Linked DNA regions of Homo sapiens. The protein of the gene in region 1 interacts with the protein of each later gene in a pairwise test. Each region holds a gene or a part of one and is shown on either strand. Other genes may lie near its edges.

Region 1 (7,097 bases):
GGGACAGGCTGTTCTGTTTTTTAAAAAGGCCCAGATTAGACCTGAAACCCTCAGATGCTGGAGGAAGGCTTCACCTCCCCACAGTCTTTTTTTTTTTTTTAAGACAGTGTCAGCCAGGCACAGTGGCTCATGCCTGTAATCCCAGCACTTTGGGAGGCTGAGGAAGGCGGGTCAAGAGGTCAGGAGATCGAGACCATCCTGGCTAACATGGTGAAACCCCATCTCTACTGAAAATACAAAAAATTAGCTGGGCTTGGTGGTGGGCACCTGTAGTCCTAGCTACTCGGGAGGCTGAGGCAGGAGAATGGTGTGAACCTGGGAGGCGGAGCTTGCAGTGAGCCAACATCGTGCCACTGCACTCCAGCCTGGGTGACAGAGCAAGACTCTGTCTCAAAAAAAAAAAAAAAAGACTGTCTTACTCTGTTGCCCAGGCTGGAGTACAGTGGTGCGATCTCAGCTCACTGCAACTTCCGCTTCCTAGGTTCAACCAATTCCCTAACTCACCCTCCCCAGTAGTTGGGATGACAGGTGTGCACCACCACGCCTGGCTAATTTTTGTATTTTTAGTACAGAGACGGGGTTTCACCATGTTGGTCAGGCTGGTCTATGAACTCCTGATCTTGTGAGCCCGCCTCAGCCTCCCAAAGTGCTAGGATTACAGGCGTGAGCCACTGTGCCCGGCTCACCTCTATTAAAAGGACCCAAAGGAGTTAACGGACAGAAAACGTGGCAGAGGCAGAGATGGGGTGGTATGGACCAGAATTTGTAGTTTGCAGTGATTTCGCCTTCCTCTCCCTTCTTCCGTGTGGGCCCTGTGGCACCTAATGAAGCAAGGTATTGAGATCATCCCTCTGGAGCCTGGCATGGGCATCTCCCCTCTGGGCTAGAACATAGCTTAACAGATTGTCCGTGTGCCTCAACCCCTCAAAAACTGCCACTTCCAGTTCCTAACATTCTTGTTTTGTTTTGAGACGAAGTCTTGCTCTGTCACCCAGGCTGGAGTGCAGTGGTGCGATCCCAGCTCACTATGACCTCCGCCTCCCAGGTTCAAGCGATTCTTCTGCCTCAGCCTCCCAAGTAGTTGGAACTACAGGCACACGCCACCACACCCAGCTAATTTTTGTATTTTTAGTAGACATGGAGTTTCACCATATTGGCCAGGTTGGTCTTGAACTCTTGACCTCAAGTGATCCACTGCCTGGGTCTCACACAGTGCTGGGAGTACAGGCGTGAGCCGTCATGCCCGGCCCCAGCTCCTCACATTCTAAGGAAGTTGTGAGATGGCAGTTAAGAGGACTGCACTCGAGGGCAGGATTTGGGAATTCTAATGTGATGCAGTGTTATTCCTCTACCTGGACCTGTTTGCCTAGCTGTGCAACTTGTGCATGACATACTGCATTGTCTTTCAAAATGTGGTTGTTGTTTTTCTTTTTTCTTTTTTTTTTTTTTGAGACAGAGTCTCACTCTGTGGCTCAGGCTGGAGTGCAGTGGCACAATCTTGGCTCACCGCAACCTCTGCCTTCTGGGATCAAGTGATTCTCCCGCCTCAGCCTCCCAAGTAGCTGGGACTACAGGCACGGGCCACCACGCCCGGCTAATTTTTGTATTTTTAGTAGAGATGGGGTTTCACCATGTTGGCCAGGCTGGTCTCAAACTCCTCACATCAGGTGATTCGCCCACCTCAACCTCTCAAAGTGCTGGGATTGCAGGCGTGAGCCACCAAGCCTGGCCCCAAAATGTGGTCTTTAACCAGGATCACAAATGTGGTTGTTAAAAATGCACACTCCAGCCGGGCACAGTGGCTCATACCTGTAATCCCAGCACTTTGGGAGGCCGAGGTGGGCGAATCACCTGAGGTCCCGAGTTCGAGACCACCCTAGCCAACATAGTGCAATCCCGTCTCTACTAAAAATACAAAAAAAAAAAAAGTTAGCCAGGTGTGGTGGCACATGCCTGTAATCCCAGCTATTTTGGAGGCTGAGGCGGGATAATTGCTTGAACCCAGGAGGCAGAGGTTGCAGTGAGCCGAGATCGTACCATTGTATTCCAGCCTGGCCACAGAGCAAGACTCTGCCTAAAAAATAAACAAAAACAAAACAAAAGCACATTCCTGGGCCAACTCAGAAATTCTGCAGTATCTGCAGTAGAATCACAAGGTGTGCCTGGGAAGCTGAATTTCTATAAGCTGCACTGATATTCTGTTACATAGCAAGAGTTTGGGGACCTCTAGTCTTCTGGCTGTGACCATCTGATTCCTCATTCTTTCCTCCATGGCTCAGGTGTGCAGCCTGAGTGTGGGTATGACGATTGGTGGGTGCTGAATTCTCAACCCACAGACCCCTGGGAAAAATGGGTCTGGAGGAGGGACCCACAGATCCTGAATGAGCTCTCTGACCTGATGTCTAGGATGAGAGGAGGGGGCTGAAGGGCTTGCAGAGCAAAGGGGACTAAGTATTTAGAAGTGCCCTGAGTGATGCCCTGCTCCTTCTTAACATTCATTATTTGCAAATATTTGAGCACCTACTACATGCTAGGCTTATCTAGGTGCTGGAGGATACAGTAGTGAATGAAAATCTGTGCCCTGATTAAGTTTATGTTCTAGTGGGCATGGCAGGCAATAAGGAAATAAATAAATGGGCCAGGCATGGTGGCTCACATCTGTAATCCCAGCACTTTGGGAGGCAGAAGTGGGTGGATCACTCAAGCTCAGGAGTTGAAGACCAGCCTGGGCAACATAGCGAGACCCCATCTCTACAAAAAATACAAAAATTAGCTGGGTGTGGTGGCGCAAGCCTGTAGTCCCAGCTACTCGGGAGGCTGAGGCGGGAGGATTGCTTGAGGCCGGGAGATGGAGGTTGCAGTGAGCTGAGATCATGCCACTGCACTCCAGCCTGGGCAACAGAGCGAGACTCCATCTCAAAGAAAGAGAGAAATGAAATATATAGCATGTTAGTGACACGTGCTGAGGAGAAAAACAAAACAGGGAAGGGGGATAGAAACTGGTATTTGCTAAGTGCAATTTTAGATGGGGTTTTCTAGGAAGTGCTGTGACGTCATCACTTGCTTTAAAAGAGGCCAGGCGCAGTAGCTGACTCCTGTAATCCCAGCACTTTGGGAGCCCCAGGCAGGCGGATAACCTGAGGTCAGGAGTTCACGACCAGCCTGGCCAACATGGTAAAACCCCGTCTCTACAAAAATACAAAAATTAGCCAGGCATGATGGCGGGTGTCTGTAATCCCAACTACTCGGGAGGCTGAGGCAGGAGAATCGCTTGAACCCGGGAGGCGGAGGTTGCACTGAGCCGAGATTGCACTACTGCCCTCCAGCCTGGGCGACACAGCAGGACTCTGTCTCAAAAAATAAAAATAAAATAAAAATAAAAATGCTGGGCGCAGTGGCTCATGCCTGTAATCCCAGCACTTTAGGAGGCCGGGGCGGGTGGATCACCTGAGATCGGGAGTTCAAGACCAGCCTGACTAACATGGAGAAACCCCGTCTCTACTAAAAATACAAAATTAGCCAGGCATGGTGGTGCATGTCTGTAATCCCAGCCACTCAGGAGGCTGAGGCGGGAGAATCGCTTGAACCCGGGAGGCGGAGGTTGCAGTGGACCAAGATCGCGCCATTGCACTCCAGCCTGGGCAACAGAATGAGACTCCATCTCAAAAAAAAAAAAAAAAGAAAGAAAGAAAGAAAGAAAGAAAGAAAGAAAGAAAGAAAGAAAGAAAGAAAGAAAGAAAGAAAAAAACTGTTATAGACTGAGTGCCATTTTAGATGGGGTTTTCTGGGAAGTGCTGTGACATCATCGCTTGCTGTAAAAGAGGCCGGGCGCGGTGGCTGACGCCTGTACTCCCAGCGCTTTGGGAGGCCGAGGCGGGAGGATCGCTTGAGCCTAGGAGTTCGAAGTTACAATGAGCTATGATCAGGCCACTGCACTCCAGCCTGGGCAATGAGAAAGACCCTGTCTCTTAAACAACAACAAAGTCAGAAGGAGAGGCTGCCATGGCTACGGCTCCAGGTGACGTCACGGCCAGCTCCGTGACGCGCGGCCAGGGCAGCCCGCGGAGACCGAGGCTCCTCTGTGACGTCAGCAGCCGGCCGGGACACAGCGGGAGGGCAGGTGCGGCCGCGGGGCCTGCCGACTTCACGCAGGGTCCGTGGGGTCCCCGCGGCGCGCAGCGGCTGAAGGAGGCCCCAGGGCCTTGGCGACCGCAGCGGCGGCTTTAGCGTCAGTGACTAGGCAGCAGGGGGTCAGGATGCGGCGAAGCTCCCGCCCGGGCTCGGCCTCGTCCTCGCGCAAGCACACGCCCAACTTTTTCAGCGAGAACAGCTCAATGAGCATCACCTCGGAGGACAGCAAAGGGCTCCGGTCAGCGGAGCCCGGGCCTGGGGAGCCCGAGGGCAGAAGAGCCCGGGGCCCGAGCTGCGGTGAGCCCGCCTTGAGCGCGGGAGTGCCCGGAGGAACCACATGGGCAGGAAGCTCTCAGCAGAAGCCAGCGCCTCGGAGCCACAACTGGCAGACAGCCTGTGGCGCGGCAACCGTGAGGGGCGGGGCCTCGGGTGCGGGCGGGGTCGACCCCGGGTGAGCCAGTGGAGGGGGCGGGGCCTAAAGGGCGGTGCTGGGCGGGGACGGGGCTAAGATGATATCTGGGCACCTCCTACAAGGTGGGTCCTGTAGGGTAAAGGGATGGTGCTAAATGAGATCCCTTAAGGGGCGGAGCCTCGGTGTCCTGGACGGTTATGGGAAGGGGCGGGGAAAATCTTGTGGTTGGGTGCCACTGAGGGGGCGCGGCCTCAATGTTAGCGTGAGTGGCTCCCAGGACAATTGGGTTCCACCAAGATCTAAGGCTGGGGGCGGGTCATCCGTTTGGGGGAGGGACCAACTCTTTTTTTTTTTTTTTTGCAACGGAGTTTCGCTCCTGTTGCCCATGCCATGCAATGGCATGATCTCGGCTCACCGCAACCTCCGCCTCCCGGGTTCAAACGATTCTCCCGCCTCAGCCTCCCGAGTAGCTGGGATTACAGGCGTGCGCCACCATGCCCGGCCAATTTTTGTGTTTTTAGTAGAGACGGGGTTTCTCCGTGTTAATCAGGCTGGCCTCGAACTCCCGACCTCAGGTGATCCGCCCGCCTCGGCCTCCCAAATCGCTGGGATTACAGGCGTGAGCCACCGCGCCCGGCCAGGAGACCAACTCTTGACGGAGCCTCCCTGAGGGGCGGGGCTTCAGAGGGCGGAGCTGGAGCCGGGATAGGGCTGCGGTGGGACCAAAGCCTGTGAGAGACTTCCCAGCTGTCTGGCTTGTGGACTGAGCAATCTGCGGCCCGGTCTCGAGGGGAAAATAGGTCTGTGGTCCGCAAGGCCCCAGTGGAGCCCTTGGGTTCCCGCAGAACCGACTGGGTCTCCAGTAGTCTCTGAGGAGCCGCTCGACCTTCTCCCGACCCTGGATCTGAGGCAGGAGATGCCTCCCCCGCGGGTGTTCAAGAGCTTTCTGAGTACGGGCCAGGCCAGCTGCGATCCCCTCTGACCCTCGGGTTCCCCTCTCCGAACTCCAGTTCTCTCTGAGCCCCCGGCCCCCGTTTGAGTATCGAGCCCCTCTCCGAGCCTCAACTCATTCCTAGCCCCCATCCAATTATCCTAGCCGACCCTCTCTTCCTGAGCCCCAGGCCCACCCCCGGCCCCTCCCAAGCCCCTTCTGAACCCGGACACCACGCAGGCTGAGCCCCGCCTCTCCCTGCCGTGGGCCCCTCTCTGACCCTCTGTCCTGGCCTCAGGCCTGCTCTTCCAGGGGCTGAGCGTGTTGTTATCCCTGGCAGGAGACGTGCTGGTCAGCATGTACAGGTCAGAGGAAGGGACGCTGGCGCCCCAGGAACAGCTCTTTGGAGGGGGTGGGGAGCAGGGCCGGAACCTTGCTGGCGCTTGAGCCGATTCAGATCTGATTGAGTCATGTTGGCAAGAGCTGGGTCTAGGACCCTGGGGTGGGGACTGGAGGGTTGAGCAGGTCGGGGCCTCAGCCTCCCTCCGGTTCCCCAGGGAGGTCTGTTCCATCCGCTTCCTGTTCACGGCTGTGTCGCTGCTGAGCCTCTTTCTGTCAGGTGAGGGGCAGTGAATTCCCTGGAGCCCCTGCCCTGGGTGCTTTGGAGGCAAACCCAGCACATTTTCTCCTACATCCTCGGTCCTGCAGCTCCTGGCATTCCCCTGCAGAACCCCCTAATTCCCCCTCAGACTCCCACGGTCCTCCCCAGGCTTAACCCCCTCAAGCCTCTTTCCACTGTCCCCCTATGCCGGGGAAACCCATTCTCTTCCTTTTCCTTCTGAGACCCCTCCCTCTCTTTCTCCAGCATTCTGGCTGGGGCTTCTGTACCTGGTCTCTCCTTTGGAGAATGTGAGTTGGGGAGACTGTCTTGGGGTAGGGGGTTGGCAGGTTGTGAACCCGGAGATTGTGGGGGTCCCCTGGACTGTCGGTCTGCTGGGGTGGGGGTAGTGCCAGAGGCTACAATCCTTAAGAAAGGGCTGGATATAAACAGACTTATGAGGGATTGTGCTTGAGGGTCTCTTGGGGGCTCTGATACTGGGAGGTCAAGGAGGAGTCGAGGAAAGGGGACACAGTCTTCAAAAAGGAAGCCCTGGCCGTTTCCAGGCTGAGGTAGGAGCAAGGACGACGGGAGCTGAGCGGCTCTGTGTTTTGTCCCTTCATCCAACAGGAACCTAAGGAGATGCTGACTCTAAGGTGAAAGAGGGCACCTAGGGTGGGAAATTGGGGGGCTCAAAGTTGCTTCTTTGAGAACCTTGAAGGCGTGGGGGCCTTTGGGAGGTGTCCAGGGGGACAGGGAGCCAACCCCACGGCGCCCACCTCCCACCTCCAGTGAGTACCACGAGCGCGTGCGCTCCCAGGGGCAGCAGCTGCAGCAGCTCCAGGCCGAGCTGGATAAACTCCACAAGGAGGTGTCCACTGTTCGGGCAGCCAACAGCGAGGTGAGCCCCGGCCCACCTTGGAAACCCCTGATGGATCCCTGCTCCCAGGGTCCTGAGACTTAAGCTCCGCCCAGAGCCCTGCGGGATTTCTCCCGGTGCCCACGAAGTCCATCCCAAAGCAACC
Region 2 (7,802 bases), on another chromosome or scaffold:
GTACTCCATCTGTCCAGGCGAGGACAGGGCAGTTCACGGAACGGGGTCTCTCTGTCAGGGCCTCCCTAGGGGCTGTCTCTGGGTCATCTCCTCAGTCTGCCTCTCCATCTTTTCCTTCATTCCTCACAGTTCTTATCTTTCTCTTCCCAGCCACTGTCTTCATCCTTCAAATCCCAGCCCTGGCGTCCCTTCCTCCTTGAAGTCTTCCCTGATTGCTCCCCCAATTTACCCTCTGCTCTCTGTTAAGCACCACAAGCACCTAACAATCTGCTGTTCCCTCTTTAGCCATTGTCTTGTCTGTCACAGTCTTCCCATCCGTACAGCGCATGTTCTCAGAGGATGGCGGTGGAACCTTCTAGCACCGGGCAAGTTACAGCTTAAGTGCTTGTGCCTTAAATTGTTTATCAGAAGCTAAGCAAGCCACTTAAAGATGGAAACCTGTCCAGTTTTCTTATTTCTACATCTAGATGTGTATAGCAGGTTGCAAGAAAGGGCATTGACAGTATTTTTATTCTTTTTTTTTGAGACAAGTCTCACTCTGTTGTCCAGGCGGGAGTGCAGTGGCGCGACCTCGGCTCACTGCAGCCTCCTCCTCCTGGGTTCCAGTGATTCTCCTGCCTCAACCTCCCAAGTAGCTGAGATTACAGGTGTGTGCCATCATGCCCGGCAAATTTTTGTATTTTTAGTAGAGACGGGGTTTCACCATGTTGCCGGGCTGGTCTCGAACTCCTGACCTCAAGTGATCCACCCGCCTCCGCCAATCAACCAGTATTTTTCTTGTTAGTGGCAGCATTTTCCCCCTGCCGGCTCTGTTCCCGCCACACTGGTCTGCTTGCTGTTCTTTGGCGATGACCAGTCACTCCTGCCCTAGGGCCTTTGCACTGGCTATTCCTTGTGCTAGGAAAATGTTTATTCTAGATCTTTCCTTGGCTGATCCTTTTATCAAAAATCAATCATTCAGCTCTCTAGTCAAATGTCCCCTCTGCCAACAGGCCTTCCGTGACCACTTTATCTAAATTTGCCCCCTCTCAATCTTCTTGTTCCCCATGCTCCCATTAATTAATTTGCCAAGGCCCTTATCATTACCTGAAATTATCTTACATGGTTGTTTATTTGTTATCCCCTTTAGAGTATAAGCTCCAGGAACTTTGATTATTCACCATCATTTTGGCAACTTGCATAGCCTCTGGCACATAGAGAGGTGCCAATATTTGTTAAATATTTGTGAACTAAATAAATGCGCTAATTAAGCCTCTTACCAAGGGCCTGGCAGACCCCATGCTAAGCACTCCAGAAAACATGATCGTGTTAATTCCTGGCAACATCCTCTGACGGTAGATATTAGTGGTTCTGTTTTCCAGACCAAGACACAGGCTCAGAGTATTTAAATGACTTGGCCAAGGTCCTGTGGCTTAGAGGCACTAGGACCCATATTTGCACCAGGTCTGCTGGATGGCAGAGGCCAGTCTCTGAACCACAGGCATCACTGCTTTGTGCCCTGTGCCAGTCACAGAGGGGACATACAATATCTGCAGGAGGGCAGGGTGTTTGCTATCGGGTCTCAAATAACAAAGTCAGGGTGATCTTTCTGAAACTCAGATCTGATCTTGTCATCCCCCTGTTTAAGATAAATCAGAGGCAGTTAGGATGGAGCCTCTCTGCGTCCACCCCTCAGTTCCTCGGACCGCAGTCTGCAGCACCCTTCTTCCCTCCCTCTCGGCTCCCCTTCAAAGGCACTGTGCTCCCGCCTGCTACAGGGTTTGGCACAAGGGATCAGGCTATGCGGAGTTCTGTCTTGTTCTCTTGGAAACTCCTGCTCTTCCTGCGTGGCTCCAGGGAGGCTCCCTGCCCAAGTGGCAGACTCTCGCAGTGTGACACCGTCACTCTGTAGTCCTCCTGCTGCCTGTTCTTTTCATTGGTTTGCGAGACCCCTTGATGACTGTGTTTGTCTCCTAGGCTATGAGTTTGCTCACTGCTGTCTCCCCCTGAGCCCAGCACAGGCCCTGAAATAGAATGAGGCGCTCAGAGAAATTAACATTGCATGAACGAGTGAACGAATGAATGAATGAACTCTGACTGTGAGCTTTCCTGCCTGCCCTGGGCCACTGACATCTAGGGGGCAGACTCTGGGTCACTGCCTGGAGCCACAGAGCCCAGGCCCGTCCTCCAAGACCCCTGGGACACCCTCTTTCCTGCGGGCCAAGTCCTCAGAGCTGGCCCCACCACTTGCCCGCACACTCACATCCAGGTAGTTCTCCAGGGGCTGTTCATCTACCAGGGTGGGAGCCTCCCACTGGGGGAAGTACTTTCTGGCTGGGTTGAGGTTGTGCTTCTTCAGGAAGTCCTTCAGCAGGCCACGCTCGGACAGGGTGCGCCTCAAGGACTTCTTTCTGATGAGGGGGACCCTGTGGTTTGGAGAAGGAAGAGGAATTAGGCAAGGATTCTGCTGACCGGGTGCTGTGGCAGCCCCAGAAGGGAAGGGAAGCTGGTCTAAGAGAGGAAGAAGGAAGGAAAGGAGACGCCCCCTCTTCTGCCCAACAATGCAAAGAAGTTAAGTTGACTAGTGCTGGAGCTGGGAGCCAAACCCAGGCTGGACTCTTAACCAGCTGATCTAAGAGAGGAAGATGGAAGGAAGGGAGAAGCTCCCACTTCTGCCCCATAATGCAAAGAAGTTAAGCTGACTAGGGCTGGAGCTGGGAACCACAGTCAGGCTGGGCCCGAGTTTTAACCATGTCTGCAGGGCTGCCTCCCAAAAAGGCAGAGAGAGAGGCGGAAAAGGGGGATGGAGACAGCTGAAGAGAGAGAGAAAAAAAAGGGAAGAAGGAAGACACGGGAGGAAAGAAAGGTGATGTGGGAGGCAGCGTCTTCACACCCACACCACCCGGACTCACTTGTACATGATGCACTCAGAGAGCGCCACCAGACCCAGCAGCAGCAGCCACTTCATGGTTCTTCCCGGGTCCCAACTCGAGGGAGAAGGCAAGATGGGAGGAAGGTGCAGAGCAGCAGCATGAGCTGCCCCTTATATACAAGTTGGGTCCCGCCTTATCGGCCTCTGAAAGTCACCGGTTCCCCTGATCCCAAACAGAGAAGCTCCTGATAAGATTGTGGCTGCCCTGAGCCACATTCTGAGACCTTTCCAGCTGAGGCACTTTCCATTGTAACCTTGCACCATGGGGAGGGGGGAGGGTGCCATGGGGGTGGACCCGCAGAGAGAGAGAGGAGCAATGACCGGGAGGCTATTTTCTTTTCTTTTCTTTTTCTTTCTTTTCTTTCTTTCTTTTTTCTTTTTCTTTCTAAGCAATGACCTGGAGGCTTATTTGTTTTCTTTTCCTTTCTTTCCTTTCTTTTCTTTCCTTCCTTTCCTTCTTTCTTTCCCTTTCTTTCTTTTTCTTTCTTTCTTTTCTTTCTTTCTCTTTCTCTCTTTCTCTCTCTCTCTCTCTTTCTTTCTTTCTTTCTTTCTTTTCCTCTCTTTCTCCCTTTCTCCCTTTCTCCATTTCTTTCCTTTCTTTCCTGAGGGAGTTTTGCTCTGTCGCGCCGCCAGAGGCTTATTTCTGAAGCATTGACAAGGGCCTACGTTAAAACTTTACCAGCTGAGCATTTTGACAAAGTTGGTTAAAAGTGCGTTTAACACAGCATTGGAGAGATGTGAAGGAGCCCCAGGTGGCCTGATTTGTCCCAGAGGGCATGCAGCTGGGGTTCTTAGAGAGCAGCCTCCCGACTCAGTCATAGGTGGTACTGGTTGTGGTCACTGCTTATTCACAGCACATTGGGGGGGTCAGTCGTTTGGGACTCAGGACACAATTCCCCACATAAGTGTCATTGTGTGGGGTTGTTGGGCGTCTGACTAGCCTATGGGCCTTGTGGCTTGCTTTTGGTGCAACTGGGCTGAGTCTGGGAAGGAGATGTGCACAGTACACGGGGGAGGAGGGAGACAGCACCGGGAGAATGCTGCCTTCCCTTCCTGGAGGAGGCAAACTTCAGACAGGCCAGGTATGTCTTTGGAATCTGTGTCCCTCCCTTTCTGCACCGCTTCTCTTTCTTTTGCTCCTTTCCCACCCTCTCCACCTTTGAGATCCCACCTGGGTCTGATTTCTCCAGGTGCTCCAGGCTTACAACTGGGTTGAAATCAGCTACAATGGAGCGAAGCAATCTGGGCAAACAATTCATACTCATGGGTGAGTGACTTAGAAAGAGGATGCTTGGCCGGGCGCCGTGGCTCACGCTTGTAATCCCAGTACTTTGGGAGGCTAAGACAGGTGAATCACCTGAGGTTAGGAGTTCAAGACCAGCCTGGCCAACATAGTGAAACCCCGTCTCTACTAAAAGTAGAAAAGTTAGCTGGGCATGGTGGTGGGCGCCTGTAATCCCAGCTACTGGGTAGGCTGAGGCAGGAGAATCACTTGAACCCAGGAGGCAGAGGTTATGAGAGGTGAAGCCGTCTGGGCTTCTGAGTCGATTAGGGACTTGGAGAACTTTCGTGTCTAGCTAAAGGATTGTAAATGCACCAATCAACATTGTGTGTCTAGCTAAAGGCTTGTAAATGCACCAGTCAGCACTCTGTGTCTAGCTGAAGGGTTTGTAAATGCACCAGTAAGCACCAGCTATTACACTCCCCGCGAAGGTCTGCAGCTTCACTCCTGAAGCCAGTGAGAGCACGAACCCACCAGAAGGAAGAAACTCTGGACACATCTGAACATCTGAAGGAACAAACTCCGGACACACCATCTTGAAGAACTGTAACACTGATCGCGAGGGTCCACGGCTTCATTCTTGAAGTCAGTGAGACCAAGAACCCACCGGAAGGAACCAATTCAGGACATAGTTGCAATGAGACGAGATCTTGCCTCTGTACTCCAGCCTGCGTGACAGAGCTAGACTCCGTCTCAAACAAAACAACAACAATAACAAAAAAAAAAAGACAAAAGAAAAAAGAAAGAGGATCCTTACCAACCCAATGGATCCTCCACTTTGTGAGCTTTTATTCAGTGAAGAAAGTAGAGTGAAAACTCTGATGCAGAAATTGCTGGGGAGGAGGACAGGGGAGCGGGGAGGTCACCAGGTAGATAGGAAGCCCTGTCTCAGGGTCTTGTTCTGAAATCGGATCCCCTGGGGCATCCTCAGACTGTCCAGCCATGAGAGCCACAGGTTCTATAAAAGCTCCAAGTTGCCCCCAGTGCCTCCAGGTGAGTATTGAGGAGTGGGCAGTGTGGATAAGTTCAGGGACAGTGGTGGTTGGTAGAAAACACATTGACATTACACACTCCCCAGTTAGTTGAAATCTTTGTGCCCCAAATGTGAATCCTGGGCCCATTTTCTTTTGTTTTCTTTTCTTTTTTTTAACTGTGAATGTTACTCCAGTATGACTAGCCCTTGTATTTTCCACGTTCACGTCCTCTGGTGCCTCCTTCTCTTCCTCTCAAGCTTCTCTCTCTCTCTCTCCCTTTCTTTTTTTTTGAGACAGGGTCTTATTCTGTCACTCAGGGTAGAGCGTAGTGGCATGAACATGGCTTACTGCAGCCTCAACCTCCCACGCTCAATCAGTCCTCTGGCCTCAGGCTCTGAGTAGCTGGGACGAAAGGCATGAGCCACTACACCGAGCTAACTTTTGTATTTTCTGTAGAGACAGGGCTTCACTATGTGGCCCAGGCTGGTTTCGAACTCCTGGGCTCAAGCGATCTTCCTGCCTCAGCTTCTCAAAGTGCTGGGATTACAGTGAACCACACTGCACCTGGCCCTCTCTCTCTTTATGGATACATAATATTTTACATATTTTTTGGGTTCATGTGATATTCTGTTACATGCATAGAAAGAGTAATGATGAAGTCAGGGTATTTGGAGTATCCGTCACCTTAAGTATGGGTTGATCCTAGCACTCATGTGAGGAACCTGATGGTCCTGAAGATGCTGCCTAAGTTCTGGGGGCACCAGATGGAATCCCCTCACTCAAGGCTGCCACCAGATGGAAGGGAGGGAGCTTGGAGCCCAAGGATGGGCACTGATTTTGGGGGCACAGCTTGTCTGGGGCCCACATGGGAATTTTGAGCAGAGGAGAAGTATATTTGGGAAGCAGAAGGAAGATTCCCCAGGCAGAAACGTGCAAGCCCCTTTACACATTCATTCAAATGCCTTATTGTGCACTTGCTGTGTACCGTGCAGGGATGCTCTAGCTGCGGAGGGTACATCCCTGAGCATGGTAGGACTAGGCCGTGCCTTTGGCGCATTTGTGGTCAGTTGAAGGGAAAGCTGGTGTGGAAGGGGCTCTTCCTTTCCACCTGGATGGATATTTGGATCACATTGAGGGGAAGCTCTCAGATTGGTGAAGATGATAATGTTTCTCCACATTAGAGATTTTAGCACCCTGAGGGACGCTGGCATGCTTGCTGACACCAATTCAGGGGTATGGCAGAGAGACTGTAGGATGGCCCCCAATTATTCATGCTGCTGGTGGTCACACCCCTGTATAATCCCCTCCCCTTTTGTGTAGGCAGGACTTGCTTCTAACTAACAGGATACAGCAAAGTAGATGGGATGTCAGTTTTGTGATGACATTATACAGGCTTGTAGCTTGTGTCTTGCTAGCACACTCTCTGTATAGACTCTTCCCCTTGCTGACTCTGATAAAGAAAGCTGCTCTATAAAGAGGCCCAAGAGGAAGGAACGAAGGGTGGCCTCCAGCTGACAGCCAGCAAGGAACTCAGGCTTTCAGTGTGACAATCTGCAAGTAACTGAATCCTGCCAGCAAGCGTGTGAGCATGGAAGCAGATCCTTCTCCAGTCAAGCCTCAGATGAGACCACAGACCAGGCTGACATCCCTGACTGACAGAGGCCTCAGCTGAACCGAGCCTGGATTCCTGACCCACAGAAACTGAGATAGTGAGTCAATGTGAGTTGTTATAAGTCATTCAATGTGTGTTAACTTCTCATCAGCAATAGAAAACAGGACTGGAAACCTTGTTGATAACTCGAAAAGGATCCACCTGATTGCCTCTTGCTCTTCCCTCTTTTGGGACCATTTCAGTGCTCTGCTAGTTGTTTTTCTGCTCAGGTAATGTGAGTGATCTGAAAAGGGGGAAGGTGACATTGTTGGTCAGGTCATCTGCAAATCTCCCACCACACAGCAGTGCTTACATTTGTGTGCCTATTTGTGCTTTTCTGAATGCTTTGAATTATTTTAAAAAAGAATTATTATACTATAACCCCCACTTTTTCGCAAGTGATGTAGCTCAAAGGGGTTAAGTGATCAGTGCAGGTTCACATAACTAAGTAATGACACAGATGGGACCTGAACCTGGGTCTCCGGAGGCTCTGGTCCCTGGCCAGACTATGTGACCATGTACATCCACCTGGTTTCTGTTCATGGGTTAGCGTGTGACAGGAATATTCCATGATGGCTGCAGCCTCCCTCCCAGGTGCACTTGGAGAAGCCATTCCACTCAGCCCCCTTTACTAGAGGAACCCTTGGGATGGAAAAGGGAATCCTGATTCTGCAACCACGTGCTCCCATGGGATCTGATTGTCAGCCAGGGCTGATCCGTGGCTGCCAGCAAGGAAGCCGCAACATCTCATTGTACGAGACTGGCCCGGCAGAAAGATTAGACAGCAACGTTTGCTTTGCCATTAGCCCTGCCTGGCACTCAGTATGGTATTGCCTGGCTTTCAGGGGGACTGGTAGCAGTGTCTCTGATGCAGGGCAGCCCCTGCCAATGGCACAGGTGTTCATAAATGTTCCATGAACCAATCAAATCAAGCAATGGAATGAGATCTAAGGAACCCAATCATGGCAAGGCTGAGATGGAGCA
Region 3 (7,389 bases), on another chromosome or scaffold:
GACTGGTCCTCCTCAGTGCTTCCTAATCCCAGTGAATGGTGCCACTGTCCACCCAAAGGCACAAACCAGAATCTATGTTATTTTTTGTTCTTCCCTTTCTCTCATTCTCTATATATTCAATCTATCACCAAGTATATGCTTTACCTAAAATATGTCCCAGATCTGTTTACTTATTTCCATCTCTGCTACCACTTCCTAGTCCAAGCCACTATAATCTCTTTCAGTTACCTCCTAACTGGTCAACCTTTTAAAACTCTTGCCCCCTTACAATTCATTCTTCTCACAGCAGCCAGAGAGATTTTAATAAACATAAAAGGAATTCTACTTAGAACTTTTCAATTAATTCCCATTGTTTGTAGAATAACTTCAGTTGAGTACACGGGCACATGCCTGTAATGCCAGCAACTTGATAGGCTGAAGTAGGAGGATCACTTGAGTCTGGGCCAAGTCCAGCCTGGGCAAAATAGCAAGACCCTATTTCTAATTTTAAATAAATAAACTTCAAACATTTACCATGACCTTTGTGGCAGAAATTATAAGTTGCCTACTCAATATGTTTCCCCCTTCTATATATACATAAAAAGATATTATTAAGAGTGGTAACAGGCTCAGTTGAAAATAAAACCTCCCCAGACCCCACTATAAGTAGGAGTGGTCATCCAACCCAGTTCTGGCCAATAAGATAAGCAAAAATCTACAGGACAGGGCTTCCAGGAACACTATTACTTTCTTAATGGAAAGGGACAAATTTAGCTGCCACATGTTCTTTTGCCCTTTGCTATCCCCCCTTTATCCTGCCTAGAGGTGGAGCAGCCATCTTGGAAGCATGATGATGGAGGCCATGCTCAAAAGATCACAGAACAGAAAGATGGAAGCTTGGGTCCTTGTACTTGAACTAGCCCTGGACTGCTGACTTTGTGACTCCCATTATGTGAGAAAAATAAACCCTTCATTTGGTTAAACTGCCATAACTTGGTTTCTATTACATACAGCAAAAAACAGTCCTAGCAGATGCAACTCTGAATATGTCTCCTGCCTACCTCTTCAGCCTTATCTCAAGTAACTCTCCTCCTCATTCACTACATCACAGCTACACTGACTTTCCTTTTATTCTCTAAATAATTCAACCCCTTTTTTGCTTCAGGATATTTCCATGTGCTGTTCCTTTGGCCTGGAATAATCTTTTCCCCACTCATTACCAGCTAACTTCTACTCATTATTCAGGTCTTAGCTTAAGTGACAACTCCTCAGCATGGATTTCCCTCACCCATCCCACCCAATCCAAATTAGGTGCTTTAAAGCACCTGCACTTTTCCTTCTTAGCATATATCATCATTTATGTACTTTTATTTACAGGATTTTTTTCCTTTTAGTTTAATGTCTGTCTACCCAACAAGACTCTGAGCTCTATAAAGGAGGAACTGTGTTTGCTTGTCTACTACTGAATATATATCTAGCTCCTATAACAATGCCTGCCACATAGGGGACACTGAATAAATACATGCTAATCAATGAACAGTCTATTGAAATGCCATGTCCTTTGTGCCATTTTTCCTGCTTTTCTGAATCAGAATTAATCACTCTTCCCTCTATGTTTCCATGGAATATTGCTTTGACTCTTGGTTTAATTCAATCCTTTTAACAAGAAAGGCATGTTTTAAAAGATCTCAAAGTCTATTCAGGAGAGGAACACATAAAAAAGAATTATAATACAGCATACAAAGTATAACGGTTGAAGTATGAGCAAGATACAAAAGTAGAGCAAGGGAAAGGGTAATTAACTTAACGAAGTGGAAGAGATGAGACCAGGAAAGGCTTTCAGGGGGTGATAACATCTAGGCAGCATTTTGAAAGCCAAATGGGAATTTTCCAGGTAAACAAGGGAAGGCAGAAAACTCCAGGCAATGAATATAGCATGGGCAAATGTCCTACAGTGTGAAGAAGTAGGGCATGTTCATTAATAGGGTGTACAGTGTGAGGCAGGCATCAGAGGCATAGTGTGAATAACATCACTGAGGGGAACCATCTGACCCAATAAACATAAGTTTCTCCATGAGACTGCTCTTGTGGCTTTTCTTTTTTCTCTCTTTAAGCTTGACCAAAGAATTGTAGAACATATAGAATCGTGACATATTTCATAATTTATGTAATCAGTTTAATGCACAATCATGTATCCAACAATTAGAAAATTATTTTCCTTGAGACATTAGGATGTGGAGGTAGTCATATGTACATGCCCCATTTTCCTGCCCAGCTGCGACCTCCCAGTTGGCTCCATCGCTGTAGAAAAAAATTGTCCAAAATCAAGACTAGAGAGTTGGACAAAGTCGAGATCATTAAATGCCTACTATGTCACAATAAGTGGCTTGGATTTTATAGACAATGAATAGATACTAAAGGATTTTAAGCAAGGGAGAGATTATCCTCAAATTTGAGTCTTAGAAAGATCACCTTGAAGACAATGTATGAGAGACAAGGAAAACAGAATTCTATTGCAATAGTAAAAGTGACTGAGAACCTCAACTTAAACAGTGGTGATTGACAATGGAGAGAATAGGATTGCAGAGCTAATTCAGAGGCAGAATTAACTGGACTTAATAATTGATTAGCCATGGGGATGAACAAGACAGGAAGAAATCAAGGATCATCTGGAAGTTTCTATTCTAGAGACTGATTATTGTGTCATTTAGTGAGAGAGGTAATACCAAAAAAAAAGTGCATGTTTGAAAGGAGAGATAACTAATTCAGTTCGGGATATATGGAATTTGAGGTGTCTGTTGGGTATTGTAGATGTCTAGCAGGTTAGATGGACATATGGATGTGGAGCTCCAAGAGAACAGCCTGGGTAAAATATATGGATGTGAAAGTTCTCAAAAAGGATGACAAACTAAACTGGGGTGTTAGCAGTGAGCACAATAGGAAAGAACAGCTTTCAAAGATATAAAAATTTAGAATAGATAGGATCTAGTGATTGATTGGAATAGATAGGATCTAGTGATTGATTGGATAAAGGGAATGTGAAAAAGAGACAAAACCTCAGATTTTTGGTTTGAAAGACAAACCTCACATTTTTGGTTTGAAAGACAAACCTCAGATTTTGGTTTGAAAGACTGGGTGCGTGACAATTCCACTATTATAAGCTAAGTTATGTTCCCTCAAAATTCATATGTTGATGCCCTAGCCCCCAGTATTTCTATATTTGACTGTATTTGGTGATAGGGTTTTTAAAGAGGTAATTAAGGTTAAGTGAAGTCATATGAATGGGACCTTATCCAATATAACTGATGTTCTTATAATGAAAGGAGATTAGGATACAGGCATACATAGAGGGAGAATGTCATGTGAATATGGAGATGGTCATCTACAAGCCAAGGAGAGAGGACTCAGAAGAAGCCAACCCTGATAACACCTTGATCTTGGACTTCTAGCCTCCAGAGCAGTAAGAATATAAATTTCTGCCATTTAAGCTACTCAGTCTGTGGTATTTTGTTATGGCAGCCCTAGCAAACTAATATAGCCACCAACTAAGGTTGGGAATATGAGGGGAAAAAGTAGGTTAGGAGAAGGTGTTGAAAGAAGACTTTGATATAGAACATGTTGAGTTTGAGATTCCTGAGGTATATCCAGGTGGAGATGTTCAAATGGCCTTGAAATTAAAAGATATAACTGGGTTACAGGTACAGATGTGGAAATCACTGATATGTAGGTGATATTTTCAACTGTAGGAATGAATGATATCATCTACGAAGTCTGTGTAAAGTGAGAATGATCATCAAGAAGAGAACCATAAGGCATGTGAACATTAAAAAGCAGACTGAGGAAGAGGACCCAAGAAAGGAGAAAAATCAGAGACAGAAGATGAAGAGAGAGAGCTTAGAATTAGTCTTTATTTTATCCTGTTTTCATTATAATTAGTTAAGTACATATTGATAGCACCATTTAAAGAGCTTTAACTTAGTGAAGGAGGCAATATCTTATTCATTTCTGAATCTCAAACACCAAGCACAGTGCCTGACATTTAATATCCCTGCAATAAATATTTGTTGAACCAAATGGAATCGAAATTAGGACTTCATTCCCTTCTTTGTTTTGTTTGCTTATTTCTGGAGTGTGCAGCATGTATTGCCACTGATATTTTAAGTTCATAGTGAAAAATCATTTCAATGTGTTCTAGGCTTGGTCCCCTTCCAACCCAACCCCCAGGACAATAGTTTTCATTATAACCTTCTGTCTTTGCCATTCTGGATGGAATTCTGTGCACAGAAGTTATATACATATATGGGTATATCTATGTAACAAATCGCAGCACAGGAGTCCCCTGGGCTCCCTCAGGCTCTGGTATGACATATTTGAGCCATATAAATTCAGCTTCTCCTCTGGCATCTGTTAGCCGACTCACTTGCAACTCCACCTCAGCAGTGGTCTCTCAGTCCTCTCAAAGCAAGGAAAGAGTACTGTGTGCTGAGAGACCATGGCAAAGAATCCTCCAGAGAATTGTGAAGACTGTCACATTCTAAATGTAAGTTGATTCATATTTTTTCCCTTTTGAGCAGAAGCATGGTTTCACAGATTTATCATATTGCAAAGTGAACATTAGAAAGTGGAATCAAAGGTGACTTTGAATTATGGCTTGCTTATTGAGATTTATTGTGTATTGTTTTATTCTCTCTGTTCTTTGGTTAGGCAGAAGCTTTTAAATCCAAGAAAATATGTAAATCACTTAAGATTTGTGGACTGGTGTTTGGTATCCTGGCCCTAACTCTAATTGTCCTGTTTTGGGGGAGCAAGCACTTCTGGCCGGAGGTACCCAAAAAAGTAAGTAAATACACATCATAATCTGATGCTTCTGTTCTGAGTTTGATTGAATTTAATTAGTAGGCATATAAATTATTCTGAAAATGAAAATCATTAAGTCTCTTTTGTGTTTATTTTCTGGTGGTATGAAAAACTGAATCAAGATTTTTCTCTCCTTCATTTGCCTAATTATTTTGGTAAGGGAAAAAAATTTATCTTCTATATTTTGGTTAGTAATGATAGGGTGTAGAATTACCCATTCTTCTATAATGCTTATATTTAAGGAGTTAAGACTCCTCCTAGGAGCAAAGTTTTTACCTTAAGAAAAAATACTTTTAATCTTTCTTTCAATTATCTGGGCAGAAACTGATGGAAAAGTAATTAGACCACCACATAAGGAGAAACCACCCAAAGTGGCAGCAAAGGATTTTCAGGGATTATGTTTCTGACTTAATGCATCTGCAGTGAGAACAGGCAGCAAGCTGCTTTTCAGGAGGAGCAATTCTCATACCTGACTTCACATTTATTTATGACTTTAAAAAGAAACTAGAGCTTTTCAGCTCCTTGCCAGCTGCAATCATCACTGTCCCACTGAGATAGCAATGCCACAAGGTAGAAGCATGCGACACCAAGTCATTAATCACAGATAACTCAGAAAGCTTCTGATACTGGGGTCATTTGGTGAAGCTTGGCTAGCCACTGTAGTTTATATTTCTGTACCTTAGTGTTATTGTTATTCCTGGGCTCATAGGCAATGGGCAAGTTTAGATATAAAATAAATAAATAAAACCATAGTCCCAAATAAAACCATAGTCCCTTCATGCTCACAATTTCCATTTGAAAGATAATCAACAAATATACAAACTACAAGTTGTGAAGATAGTTTTCTGGCTTTGCCATGTTTTTCTGTTGGTGTGTGGATTGCTGCTGAAGTTATTGTTATTACTGTTGTTAATTGGTTGTCATAAGATGCTCATTTCTATTTGGTAACAGATGTAGGGAGAAAAAAGCACAAATCCAGGAAGGAGGATGATACAAGAAAATGGGTTGGCATGGACCGTTAGGAGCCAAAGGAGCAATAGGAGCAGAGAGAAAAAAATATGGGTCAGTGGGGAGAGAGAGGCAGAGCAGGAAAAGCAGAAAATAAGCTGGCTAAGTGTCTGAAAGATAACAGAGGTATAAAGCATAACCACCCTTGGGTTCTCCACCTCTGCTGTCATACCCACTTTCATTTAGTCCCAAAGGATATCTTATCAGGTTTAAGTAGGAGGGAGAGCAAGCCAGCCTACTTTGTTTGCCTTTTTATTTATACTTTGTTCCAGAAAAGATTTCAGGCATCACCCAATGCCTATAGTTAGCCCTATCCCCTACTCCTCCTCCCCTTACTGCTCCTTGCTTCTGAACTACTTACCGTTCAAATGTCCTTCTAGAGAAGCCACCTGTGTTCAGGCTGGCAGGGTGGGTAAAGCAATCGAGATCAGGAAGGAAACAGCAAATTAATAAGAGAGCCAAAATGCATTCCAATACAATTCTGGTACCACTTAGCTAATTCCCAAGGTGATATGTCACCCCACAAGTTGAACCTTGGATCCTCTTGAAAATTATCCATGAGTTAAAGGGCCATAAATCCTTTGTTCTCCACAGCCATAATGTACTTAACTGGGCATGGTGGATAGCTAGTCCTTTTGACCACCCTTAGATGCTTGCCTAAATAAGGGGCCAAATGGCCTTTCTTGTTTTATTGTTGTCATTGGTACTGCAAATGCTATTCCAAAAGAGTATATGTGTTTTTATAAATTTACAGTGCTATTTGCCTCAACGCAGCTATAAACGACTAGGTGGAGACCTTGCCTTTTTATTGCAAAGTGTCAAACTCACTTGCAGCTTCATGGTCTCCTCTCTTTCCCTATTATATCATCTTTACATCTCATTCTAGTTCTGTTTTTAATGATTATAAGGAGCAATCCTATGATACCTCAAACCAAAATAAAACTTGGTCAGTGCATGCACAGAAGAGGTGGGATATGCTGCTGAATAAAGTTTATCAAAAATCAAACCTCTTGTGAAGTAATCCATTTTGGGATGTCATTTTCAGCAAAGGGACTCTCAGAAATGAACAAAGCTATTATGAAGTAATCCAGATAAAGACAACAGGTGTCCCCTAGGGCAAGTTTCTCTACCATGAACAAATATTGTTGGTTTTCCATTCCAGTGGGGAGTTATGATTCATTGTCTTTGATATTTAAGTCATGGCCTTCATAAGACCAGGTTTGGTTCATTGAAAACTAAGAAATCAGCTGGAAATGAGGATGCTTTACTTAGTCCACTACTACCTTCAGGTCCCAGACAAAGATCTCAAGAGACCATCTATGTTTCCAATGGGTACGCCTATCAACAAGCCTGCCTTAGAGCAGACTTAAGAATTCTGGGAAGAGACTAGCAGTCAGATTAGTCTTGGAAGAGTTGCATAGGAAAGGGACACAGGCATCTTACATAAATTAAAGACTCTCCCCTTAATGGTATGGCCTAGCAAGAAACAACAGCAGATTAAAATCCAGGCTCTTTGGGCTTTCCTTAACAAATCTATGAGACTTG

Evidence for each region.
Region 2: the proteins of SPAG4 (region 1) and PGA4 interact in binary tests that used the Homo sapiens proteins (3 or more experiments, as listed by UniProt).
Region 3: the proteins of SPAG4 (region 1) and TNMD interact in binary tests that used the Homo sapiens proteins (3 or more experiments, as listed by UniProt).

What each region holds. Positions count from the first base shown.
Region 1 is NC_000020.11:35,611,748-35,618,844, forward strand, and holds the start of SPAG4 (sperm-associated antigen 4 protein), read left to right. Parts: upstream 1-4,081; 5' UTR 4,082-4,256; coding exon 4,257-4,560; intron 4,561-4,589; exon of another isoform or gene 4,590-4,640; coding exon of another isoform or gene 4,641-4,665; intron 4,666-5,388; coding exon 5,389-5,493; intron 5,494-5,772; coding exon 5,773-5,839; intron 5,840-6,031; coding exon 6,032-6,093; intron 6,094-6,339; coding exon 6,340-6,383; intron 6,384-6,702; coding exon 6,703-6,728; intron 6,729-6,864; coding exon 6,865-6,973; intron 6,974-7,097. UniProt on the Homo sapiens protein: Involved in spermatogenesis. Required for sperm head formation but not required to establish and maintain general polarity of the sperm head. Required for anchoring and organization of the manchette.
Region 2 is NC_000011.10:61,217,546-61,225,347, reverse strand, and holds the start of PGA4 (pepsin A-4 preproprotein), read right to left. Parts: upstream 3,002-7,802; 5' UTR 2,948-3,001; coding exon 2,892-2,947; intron 2,406-2,891; coding exon 2,243-2,405; intron 10-2,242; coding exon 1-9. UniProt on the Homo sapiens protein: Shows particularly broad specificity; although bonds involving phenylalanine and leucine are preferred, many others are also cleaved to some extent.
Region 3 is NC_000023.11:100,580,548-100,587,936, forward strand, and holds the start of TNMD (tenomodulin), read left to right. Parts: upstream 1-4,388; 5' UTR 4,389-4,471; coding exon 4,472-4,519; intron 4,520-4,683; coding exon 4,684-4,815; intron 4,816-7,389. UniProt on the Homo sapiens protein: May be an angiogenesis inhibitor.